Linked DNA regions of Homo sapiens: region 2 is linked to region 1. The links come from fine-mapping of genetic effects on gene expression. Tissue or cell type: NK cells. Region 1 holds a variant in brackets; the other region holds the start of a gene. All regions are shown on one strand. Distances are between the middles of the regions.

Region 1 (5,969 bases):
CAACCTCTGCCTCCTGGGTTCAAGCGATTCTCCTGCCTCAGCCTACTGAGTAGCTGGGATTACAGGCATGCACCACCACGCCCAGTTAATTTTGTATTTTTAGCAGTGACAGGGTTTCTCCATGTTGGTCAGGCTGGTCTCGAACTCCCGACCTCAGGTGATCCACCCGCCTTGGCCTCCAAAGTGCTGGGATTTGGGAGTGCTACAGGCATGAGCCACCATGCCCCGTCTTTTTTTTCTTTTTCTTTTTTTTGAGATGGAGTCTCGCTCTGTTGCCCAGGCTGGAGTACAGTGGCACAATCTCAGCTCACTGCAACCTCCGCCTCCCAGGTTCAAGCGATTCTCCTGCCTCAGCCTCCTGAGTAGCTGGGACTACAGGCGCCTGCCACCACGCCTAGCTAATTTTTGTATTTTCAGTAGAGACAGGGTTTCACTATGTTGGCCAGGATGGTCTCCATCTCCTGACCTCGTGATCCACCTGCCTGGGCCTCCCAAAGTGCTGGGATTACAGGTGTGAGCCACTGCACCCAGCCTTTTTTTTTTTTTTTTTTTTTTTTTTTTTTTTTTTTTTTTTAGACAGATTCTTGCTCTGTCGCCCAGGCTGGAGTGCAGTGGTGCAATCTCAGCTCACTGCAACCTCCACCTCCCGGGTTCAAGCGATTCTCCTGCCTCAGCCTCCCGAGTAGTTGGGATTACAGGTGCCCACACCACGTCCGGCTACTTTTTGTATTTTTAATGGAGACAGGTTTCTCCGTGTTGGCCAGGCTGGTTTTGAACTCCTGACTTCAGGTGATCCTCTCACCTCAGCCTCCCAAAGTACTGGGATTACAGGCATGAGCCACTGTGCCTGACCTGATTTGTATTTTTTTTTAAATATTAACATTAAAAGGATTAGCCATTTGTGATGAGTTGTAAATATTTTTCCCAGTTTGTTATTTGTCTTTTCTTTTGTTCATAATATTTTAAACAATATGAAAAATTTTCACATATGAGGTTATCAGTATTTTGCTTGTAGCTTCTCGTGGTGGTGTCACCATAACAGCAGTCTCGATTATTTTTTAAAAATTTTCCTCAGGCCCAGCGCGGTGGCTTATGCCTGTAATCCCAGCACATTGGGAGGCCAAGGCAGACAGATCACTTGAAGTCTGGAGTTCGAGACCAGCCTGGCCAACATGGTAAAACCCCGTCTCTACTGAAAATACAAAAATTAGCCGGGTGTGGTGGCAGGTGCCAGTAGTCCCGGCTACTCGGGAGGCTGAGGCAGGAGAATCGTTTGAATCTGGGAGGCAGAGGTTGCAGTGAGCTGAGATTGTGCCACTGTACTCCAGCGTGGGTGACAGAGCGAGACTCAGTCTAGAAAAAAAAAAATTTCCATTAGTGTTTTTACCCCCAAAAATTACAATGGCTTTATTATTTGTTTTAGCTTATTTGAACAATAGAGAAAAATAAAATTAACCCAAAAATACCACCCCAAGAGATTTTAAAAAGCCACTATCATTTTAGGTATATATTCTTCCAGACATCTCTATGTACACATTTCCAATCTTCTAAATCCTTTCAGTGTAATTCACTGTTCTAGGTTCTTGAGATGGATGCAGAACTCACAAATTCTCAGCTTTTCTTTCATCCTAAAATTTTTATTTATTTATTAACTTACTTATTTTAAAAGAGACAGGGGTCTCCCTATGTGGCCCAGGCTGGTCTCAAACTCCTGGCCTCAGGCAATCCTTCTTCCTTGGCCTTCCAAAGCACTGAGATTACAAGTGTAAGCCACCACATCCAGGCTCTTTTTTCTTATGTGCTCTTAAGACTATGTATTTTCCTCTAAGCACATTTTTTTCTTTTCTTTTTTTTCTTTTTTCTTTTTTTTTTTTGAGACAGAGTCTCACTCTGTCGCCCAAGCTGGAGTGCAGTGGCATGACCTTCGCTCACTGCAACCTCTGCCTCCTGGGTTCAAGCGATTCTCCTGCCCCAGCCTCCCGAGCAGCTGGGATTACAGGCACACGCCACCATACCCGGCTAATTTTTGTATTTTTAGTAGAGACAGGGTTTCACCATGTTGGTCAGGCTGGTCTCAAACTCCTTACCTTGTGATCTGCCCACCTTGGCCTCCCAAAGTGCTGGGATTAACAGGCGTGAGCCACCGCGCCCGGCCCTTTTTTCTTTCTTTCTTTCTTTTTTTTTAAGACAGAATCTCGCTCTGTCACCCAGGCTGGAGTGCAGTGGCGCAATCTCGGCTCACTGAAACTTCCACCTCCCAGGTTCAAGTGACTATCTCGCCTCAGCCTCCTGAGTAGCTGGGACTACAGGTGCCCACCACCACGCCCGGCTAAGTTTTTGTATTTTTAGTAGAGATGGGGTTTCACCATTTGGTCAGGCTAGTCTCCAACTCCTGACCTCAAGCAATCCACCTGCCTCAGTCTCCCAAAGTGCTGGGATTAAAGGTTTGAGCCATGGTGCCCGGAATGCTTTGTGACATTTTAAATTATCACTCAGGTCAAAATATTTTCTAACTCCAATTGTGATTTATTTTGTGGGTCATTTAAAAATGTATTCAGCACACTACAGCCTTAAACTCCTGGAATCAAGGGATCCTCTGGCCTCCAAGTAGCTGGGACTGCAGGCATGTGTCATTGTGCCCGGCTGTATTTAACTTGTAAACATAGGGACTTCCCAGTTACCTTTTTGTTACTGATTCTAGCCTCACTGTAATGTAGGCAAGAAACATACTTTGCATCATTTGAAGCCTTTGAAATTTGTTGAAACTTGCTTTATAGAACAATCTGGTCAGTTTCTTAAATGTTCCAAATGTGCTTGAACATGTGCTTTGTAATTTGAAGTCGTTGGGTATAGTGGACTCTATACGCTTGTTGAATCAAATTTACTGCTCGTGTTATTTAAATTTTCTATATCCTTGCTGATTTTTTCTTATTCTTTCTCTTTTTTTTTTTTTTTTTTTTTAGAGAAAGAGTTGGTCTCATTTTGTCTCTCAGGTTGAAGTACAGTGGTGCCATCATAGCTCACTGCAGCCTCAACCTCCTGGGGTCATGTAATCGTCCCACCTCAGCCTCCTGGGTAGCTGGGACTATAGGCATGCACAACCATGCTCAGCATATTTTTTTTTTTTTTTTGAGACGGAGTCTTGCTCTTGTCACCCATGCTAGAGAGCAGTGGCGCGATCTTGGCTCACTGCAACCTCCGCCTCCCGGGTTTAAGCTATTCTCCTGCCTCAGCCTCCTGAGTAGCTGGGATTACAGGTGCCCGCCACCACACCCAGCTAATTTTTGTACTTTTAGTAGAGACGGGGTTTCGCCATGTTGGCCAGGCTGGTCTCGAATTCCTGAACTCAGGCCCGCCCCGGCCTCCCAAAGTGTTGGGAATTACAGGCGTGACCCACCGCGCCCGCCCCTAATTTTTTTTTTTTTT[G/TG]TAGAAATGAGGGTCTCCCTATGCTGCCCAGGCTGGTCTTGAACTCCGGCCTCATGCAATCCTCCCATCTCAGCCTCCCAAAGTGCTGGGATTACAGGCATCAGCTACTGCACCTGGCCCTGACTTTTTCTATCAGTTCTGAAAGAAGTATACTCTATTAATTGAGAGAGGTGTGCTAAATCTCCTACGATGATTGTGAACTTGTCTATTTTTCCTTGTAGCTCGGTGCTGTATATTATTTGAGGTTTTGTTAAGTGCATACAAATTTAGAAATGTTTTCCGGCGTTGGTTGAAAATCACCCCCGGTTTTGGCCGTGGCCGCGGGTGAAATTCGGCGCGCAAGAGCCTCCGGGGGCCTCAGCTCACCGCGTGCTGCCGCCATGTGCGACGGTGAAACCCAGGCCCCGACAGGGGCCGCGGCCTCCCCCCGGGTGTGGCTGCTCGCGTGGTCTGACCCCTGACTCCTGACCCCGGCTGCAGACCCCTAACCCTATTTTTCTCTCCGCAGGACACTGGTCCTCCTACGCCTGAGACCGACGTTGCCAGGACCGCAGGGTCAGGGGGACTTGGCTGTCCCCCGTCTTTCAAATAAAGCTGTTTGTCTAAAATAAATAAATAAATAAATAAATAAATAAATAAATAAATAAATTTATTTTTTAACTTCCTGGTGAATTAAACTTATTGGTATAAAATGTCCTTATTTCTAGTAATGCTTTTTGCCTTCAAGTCAACTGTGTCTGATTTTAACATAAGCTTCTTTTGGTTTATGTTGCATAGCTTATCTTTTCCTATAATTTTACTTTCAACCTTTTGATAACCTTATTATTGTTTATTTATTTATTTATTTAATTTATTTATTTTTGAGACAGAGTCTTGCTCTGTTGCCCAGGCTGGAGTGCAGTTGTGCGATCTCGGCTCACTGCAAGCTCTGCCTCCTGGGTTCATGCCATTCTCCTGCCTCAGCCTCCTGAGTAGCTGGGACTACAGGCGCCCGCCACCACGCCCCGCTAATTTTTGTGTTTTTAGTAGAGATGGGGTTTCACCTTGTTAGCCAGGATGGTCTCGATCACCTGACCTCGTGATCTGCCCGCCTCGGCCTCCCAAAGTGCTGGGGTTACAGGCGTTAGCCACTGCGCCCGGCCTATTGTTATTTATTTATTTAAAAAAAAATTTTTTTTTGAGACGGAGTCTCGCTCTATCACCCAGGCTGTAGTGCGGTGGCACAATCTCAGCTCACTGCAACCTCTGCCTCCCGGGTTCAAATGATTCTCCTGCCTCAGCCTCCTGAGTAGCTAGGATTACAGGCACGGGCCACCACACCCGGCTAATTTTTGTATTTTTAGTAGAGACGGGGTTTCACCATGTTGGTCAGGCTGGTCTCGAACTCCTGACCTCAAGAGATCCACCTGCCTTGGCCTCCCAAAGTGCTGCAATTATAGGCATGAACCACCACGCCCAGCCTGTTATGTTATTTGAAAAAGAATGGTCTGGAATATAAGAGCATTTTTACTTAATTGAACAACCACCCAAAGAAAAATTGGTTAATTCTCTAATTAACTGGTGGGATTGGTGAGACAGGGTTGTTTTATGTTACGGTCTTTGGAATAACCAATGACTTGGAAAAAGTCATCCCCATGGGGGCAGCAAAGAGTCATTGATAAAGAGCCTGCTGAATTTCTGAAACCTGGTGAAACTTGTTATATATAATACAATAATAAATATTAGGTAACATTTATCCAGCACTAGGCCCTGTGCAACACTTTCTATACATCATTTAATATAATCATTAAAACAATGATCTGTAAGGTGGATGTTATATTTCTTTCACAGATAAGAAAACAAGTTTAGAGAAGTTAAGGAACTTGCCTGTCATATTAGTGAGGGTCAGAGCTGGGGAATGAAGAAAAGGGAACAGGTTGAGGCGACTTGAACAGCAGATCACTAGGATTCAGCAACTGATTGTGGTCCCTACTCCTTTTTTCTTTTTCTTTTTTTTTTTTGAGGCAGCAGGGTCTGGCTCTGTCACCCAGGTTGGAGTGCAGTGGTGCGATCTTGGCTCACTGCAACCTCGGCTTTCCAGGCTCAAGTGATCCTTCCACCTCAGCCTTCTGAGTAGCTGGAACTATAAGCACATGCCACCATGCCTAATTTTTGTATTTTTTTCTGTAGAGACAGGGTTTGGCCATGTTACCCAGGCTGGTCTTGAACTCCTGGACTCAAGCAATCCACCCGCCTCAGCCTCTCAAAGTCCTGGGACTGCAGGTATGAGCCACCATGTGTGGCCGAGGTCCCTACTCTTTTATTCGGGAGCCATAGAAGCCAGAACTGCAATAAATTCTAGTTCTGGACTTAGAGCTAGGTTCCAAGCTGAACTGAAATTAGGAGGAGCCAGTAGTATAATGCCTGGATGAAAATGAGTAACTGGGGCAGCTTAGAGTTAATAGGAAACCAAGAATAGAGCAGATCATCAGGTCAGCAAGTCCCTGCAGAGTAAAGCAGAAGAGTAAAGCCCTGGTAGGGACACAGGGATCCGAGTGGCCCTG
Region 2 (5,000 bases), 96 kb after region 1:
AACTGAAGGAGGAGCAGGGGAGGTCAGCAAGGAACGGGAGAGTGGGGATGGAGAGGCTGAGGGAGACCAGAGGGCTGGAGGGTACTATTTAGAAGAGGACACCCTCTCTGAAGGTTCAGGTGTAGCGTCCCTGGAGGTTGACTGTGCCAAAGAGGGCAATCCTCACTCTTCTGAGATGGAAGAGGTAGCCCCACAGCCACCTCAGCCAGAGGAGATGGAGCCTGAGGGGCAGCCCAGTCCAGACGGCTGTCTATGCCCCTGTTCTCTTGGCCTGGGTGGCGTGGGCATGCGTCTAGCTTCCACTCTGGTTCAGGTCCAACAGGTCCGCTCTGTGCCTGTGGTGCCCCCCAAGCCACAGTTTGCCAAGATGCCCAGTGCAATGTGTAGCAAGATTCATGTGGCACCTGCAAATCCATGCCCGAGGCCTGGCCGGCTTGATGGGACTCCTGGAGAAAGGGCTTGGGGGTCCCGAGCTTCTCGATCCTCTTGGAGGAATGGGGGTAGTCTTTCCTTTGATGCTGCTGTGGCCCTAGCCCGGGACCGCCAAAGGACTGAGGCTCAAGGAGTTCGGCGAACCCAGACCTGTACTGAGGGTGGGGATTACTGCCTCATCCCCAGAACCTCCCCTTGTAGCATGATCTCTGCCCATTCTCCTCGGCCCCTTAGCTGCCTGGAGCTCCCATCTGAAGGTGCAGAAGGGTCTGGATCCCGGAGTCGTCTTAGTCTGCCCCCCAGAGAACCCCAGGTTCCTGACCCCCTGTTGTCCTCTCAGCGCAGGTCATATGCATTTGAAACACAGGCTAACCCTGGGAAAGGTGAAGGACTGTGATTAGGACCACAGCCCTGGGCAAAGGGGACCAGCAAGTTGTCTTGAATCTCCAGGGTTCCTGACTAGCTGTCTCCTCTGCAGCATGAGCAGCTGTAGTGCCCAACTCTATAGGCTTTGGCCCTCCAGCTTCTCTCTTTGACTGTGGGAGGCACTGCCTTGGTTGGTTTACCTGAACTTGTCTCCGACACAAAGCACTTATCTCTTAGGAGATTCCCAAGAAAGTCAACAAGATCTTGTTCCCAGGGAGTGGGTCATTGGCCAAAGGGAACATAAGGTAGGCAGAAAACTTAAAAGAGTTTGTTAAAGTGAAGACTGGAGAAATTCCTCCCTTCCTCTGAGCTGTGAATCTCTCTTCATGAAAGCCAAAGGTAGAGACAGGGAGGACAGGGCCAGGTTAGGGCCTTCCACACACAAACACTTCTAGAGTTGCCCATTCCTGTTATGTTCTTGGACCCTAAGATACCTCCTGTCCCTTTTAAATCCAGATTAAGAGAAACGTCCAGGAAGAGCTCTTTGAAGCCCTCAATATTTGTTGGAGGGACTGGACTCCTCTCCAGCTCCCCACCCTCTGCCTCCAGTCACCATGTGCAAGAGAGGTCCTGTACAGATCTCTCTGGGCTCTCCTTTCTCCTTTGGAATAACTTGTTCCTATTTCAGGAAAGGGAAATGGTGTCACTCAGGCCCTGGGACTGCTTCTCCAGCCAGGCTGGGGCCACAGGTCCCACTCTAGTGAAGGTCAATGTCTCAGAATAAAAGCTGTATTTTTACACATAGTGTGGAGTCTCATTATTCTTATTAAAGTCTTTGGTGATAGGTATTATATCTTCACATATTTGGCAAAACATTCTTTTTCTTCTTCTTGTTTGGGTGCTCTTCCTCAGTTGTTGTCATGGAGACTAGTGGCCAGAAACTAGAGCTAGGTTCATGGTGGTCAGGAAATAAGGAAGAGAAACTTATATTTACATAATGCGTTCATTATGTGCCAGGAACTGGACTAAGTATCCTGTGCTCACAAAATCTATGTCCTTGATTTTATTTAATCCACACAATTCTGGAAGGTTGGTGCTAGTATCTCCAGTTTATAGATGAGGAAACTAAGGCTCAATTAAGTCAAAATGTTTGCCAAAGGTCTCAGAGGTAAGAAGTGGCAGAGATGGGTTTGAAACCTGGATCTGCCTGGCCCCCAAGCTTGAATTTTTCCCATTATACCACACTACTCCAAATCCATTCAGGGTAGGTCTTGATTGAGAAGAATGGGAATCAAGATTCCTGTCACAGAAGGTGTGAGCCTTTAGAACACTAGAAGCTTTGGGGTCTTTGGATGAGTGACTGCTGACGCGAATAACAAGGAACATATCCAATTCTATGCATGCCCCGATAGGTCGTAATCTCTAGCAGGTAACCTTTCAAAAAGACGCCCTGCGCCAAGATGGCCTCCCAAATAGCCCTTGTTAAAGATGGCGCCTCCGTCGGACGTCCCTCCCTTGATCTCAGCTGGATTCTCTTCTTTCCTGGAATGAAAAAATGCCCTGCCAAGCACTAAGATATTAGTACAAGTTAGTCGTCTCTTTCCCGTTCTTGTCGAAAGTGGCCAGGCCTTCAGCTACATTCTCCAGGACACGGCTTCTTTCCGGCTTCACAAATAACCCACAAACACCAACTCTCATCAAGATGGAGTGAGCGGAAGTGGGGCAGTTCTGAGTTTGAGTTTATGGGCGGGGCGAGAGCGACACTTCCGCCCCTCACCAACATGGCCGCGGGCTGGAAGTGCGCATGAGCAGCTGTCTATGGAGATACCTAGGCCGGGAGAGGGAGAACACAGTTGGAGAAAATCGGCAGCTGAGACGGCCTTGGCCGGTGAGTGTAGGACCGGGCAGAAGTCTGGAAACTGGGTGGACTGGCAAGGCAGGGCAGCTTTGATTTTGTTTCCGTTTTTCAAGTTAGAGAACACTGCTGGGGAGGAAGCCTTTGTTTTGGGGGAGGGGGCTGTGCTGGTTCTTTATCTCATACCCTGCTTTGTGGGCCAAACTCTCTCCCTTCCCCAGAGCGCGAGCGTCCCAGCCCTCCTGCGCTGTCCAGCTGCGCGCCGCAGCCGCCGGCACCGGGCGCTTGAGCTCCCTAGTCCCCGAGGCCCTTTCCTGCCTCCTCCGCGGAGCAGCTGGGGCGCGGGGCTAAGACTGCGGGGCTGCGGGGTCACGGCGCAGGCTCCCGGGCTCGCGCCTGGCGGGCGCTCAGCTCCGTAAGCGCCTTCTGGTTGGTGAGCCTGCAGGGAGACGCCTCATTCTAAGGCAAGGTCTAGGTGCCTGACTTCTTTCGGGAGTTGATTTTTTTTCCCTTTGTGTCCAGACTTAGCAAGGGCTCTTACTGGGCCCTTCTGGCCTGAGCGTGCACACCACAACGTCCCATCCCTGTTTCCGTGTCACCGATCCCTAATGCCTAGGAAATGCTTCCGGATGTCCAACTAAGATTTGAATAAGTACCCTGACCCCGTTGCTGGGTGTCCTCAGAGACTGCCCCGGCTGACAGCTGTGGCCAATAGAGATGCCTCCTGTGCCGGGCCCTCTATTTCATTGCCTTCCCCTGCAGTCAGCGCGGCAAGCTTCGCAGGGCATTTCCTCTTCAGGTTTGAAGATGGAAATGTAGGTGGTCCCAAAACACTAGTGCTACTTCCCCTTATCGACTGGGATCTCCTTGCAGCGTTACTTCGTCTGTACGGTTTCACTTTCAGTTCCTTTTTCAACATTTTCCTCGGACGCGGTCTTTCCGAGGCTTATCCATTGAAAATTTTCCTTGGATAGGAAAGGTTTGGAGGACCTTATGGGTAGAGAATTTCCAAAAATCTTGCCCCTTTTGTGTTGGGATTATCTTATTGCTTTGTACTGTGTAGCTGTTTCTTTCTGGAGGCATGTCTGCCCAGCTCTTTGTTTTTCCTGCCCTCTGGCTGGGTGTCAGGGTCCTAAGGCAGAGCTTGTAGGTGGATTCTTCCCCCTTTGTCTCTTCTTCAGAACCCTGTTTTTTTTTTTTTTACCCCTTCTTGCTCAGGCTTAGTTGATTTGGAGTTGTCATAGCAACATTTTAGCAACAGTGTTGTTCTGCAGGAAGGCTTGATGAATAAAATAGAGAATGCTTGAAGAGGATCCACTTGGGCTTTAGGGTTTCTAACAGATTATATAAATCTGGATACCCCAAAACAAGAGTCCTGTCAGTAGAATGGGGCCCAAATGCCAAGTCTAGTCTTTGTGGTCAGGGATATTCTTCCAGTGGTAGTGGGCTTCAGATTTCCTCTTCCTAGGTTTGAAAACAGAAATGTCTTGATGGACAACATGTGGCTGAGAAACTGGAAGAAGCATCAGTGTCCATGACACTGTATTTTTTGATGGTGGGGCCAATACATGGCCCTTCCTGATTCCCATGAAGCTGCCATCATGGCAGGTCATAATAGCTTTAATGATCCATTTAGAGATGTGTTGTTGGCTGGGTGCGGTGGCTCATGCCTGTAATCCAAGCACTTTGGGAGGCCGAGGCAGGCGGATCACCTGAGGTCAGGAGTTCCAGACCAGCCTGGCCAATATGGTAAAACCCCATCTCTACTGAAAATACAAAAATTAGCTGGGCGTGGTGGTGGGCACCTATAATCCCAGCTATTCAGGAGGCTGAGGCAGGAGAATCACTTGAACCCAGGAGATGGAGGTTGTAAGCCGAGATTGTGCCACTGCACTCCAGCCTGGGTGACAGAGCAAGATTCTGTCTCAGAAAAAAAAAAAAAAAAAAGAAAGAAATGTGTTGTTTCGGCCAGGTGCAGTGGCTCACACCTGTAATCCCAGCACTTTGGGAGGCTGCCGAGGTGGACAGATCATGCTCTCAGGAGTTCGAGACCAGCCGGGCCAACATGGTGAAACCCCGTCTCTACTAAAAATACAAAAATTAGCCAGGCGTGGTGGTGTGCACCTGTAATCCCAGCTACTCCGGAGGCTGAGGCAGGAGAATCACTTGAACCTGGGAGGCAGAGGTTGCAGTGAGCTGAGATCGCGCCACTGCACTCCAGCCTGGGTGACAGAGAGAGACTCTGTCTCAAAAAAAAAAAAAAAAAAAAAGTGTTGTTTCTGTCTTCCAGTATAATTATCCACTCTCCACCAGGAGTTGGAGTGATAATGGAGGGATGGGGAACACT

Which allele goes with the higher level. Positions count from the first base shown, and alleles are read on the strand shown. Sizes are in standard deviations (SD) of each study's normalised expression.
With allele TG in place of G in region 1, the expression in NK cells of the gene that starts at base 2,567 in region 2 is higher (large effect, 1.4 SD a copy in Gilchrist 2021).

Evidence for each region. PIP is the estimated chance that this variant, and not a neighbour inherited with it, causes the effect.
Region 2: it holds the start of USF1, and the variant in region 1 is fine-mapped to the expression of USF1 in NK cells (Gilchrist 2021, PIP 0.95).

The regions. Positions count from the first base shown.
Region 1 is chr1:161,139,078-161,145,046 of GRCh38, reverse strand. It overlaps LOC124900457 (small nucleolar RNA ACA64), which reads left to right and starts at 3,711; the gene lies at 3,711-3,839. The variant G/TG (reference allele first, on the strand shown) is at 3,427.
Region 2 is chr1:161,043,544-161,048,543 of GRCh38, reverse strand. It overlaps USF1 (upstream transcription factor 1), which reads left to right and starts at 2,567. Exons shown (of 11, transcript NM_007122.5): 1 at 2,567-2,686. ARHGAP30 (Rho GTPase activating protein 30) reads left to right here. Exons shown (of 12, transcript NM_001025598.2): 12 at 1-1,598. The coding sequence ends at 829. RefSeq lists enhancers at 1,717-2,597, 2,208-2,687, 1,800-2,999, 2,598-3,478, 3,538-3,767.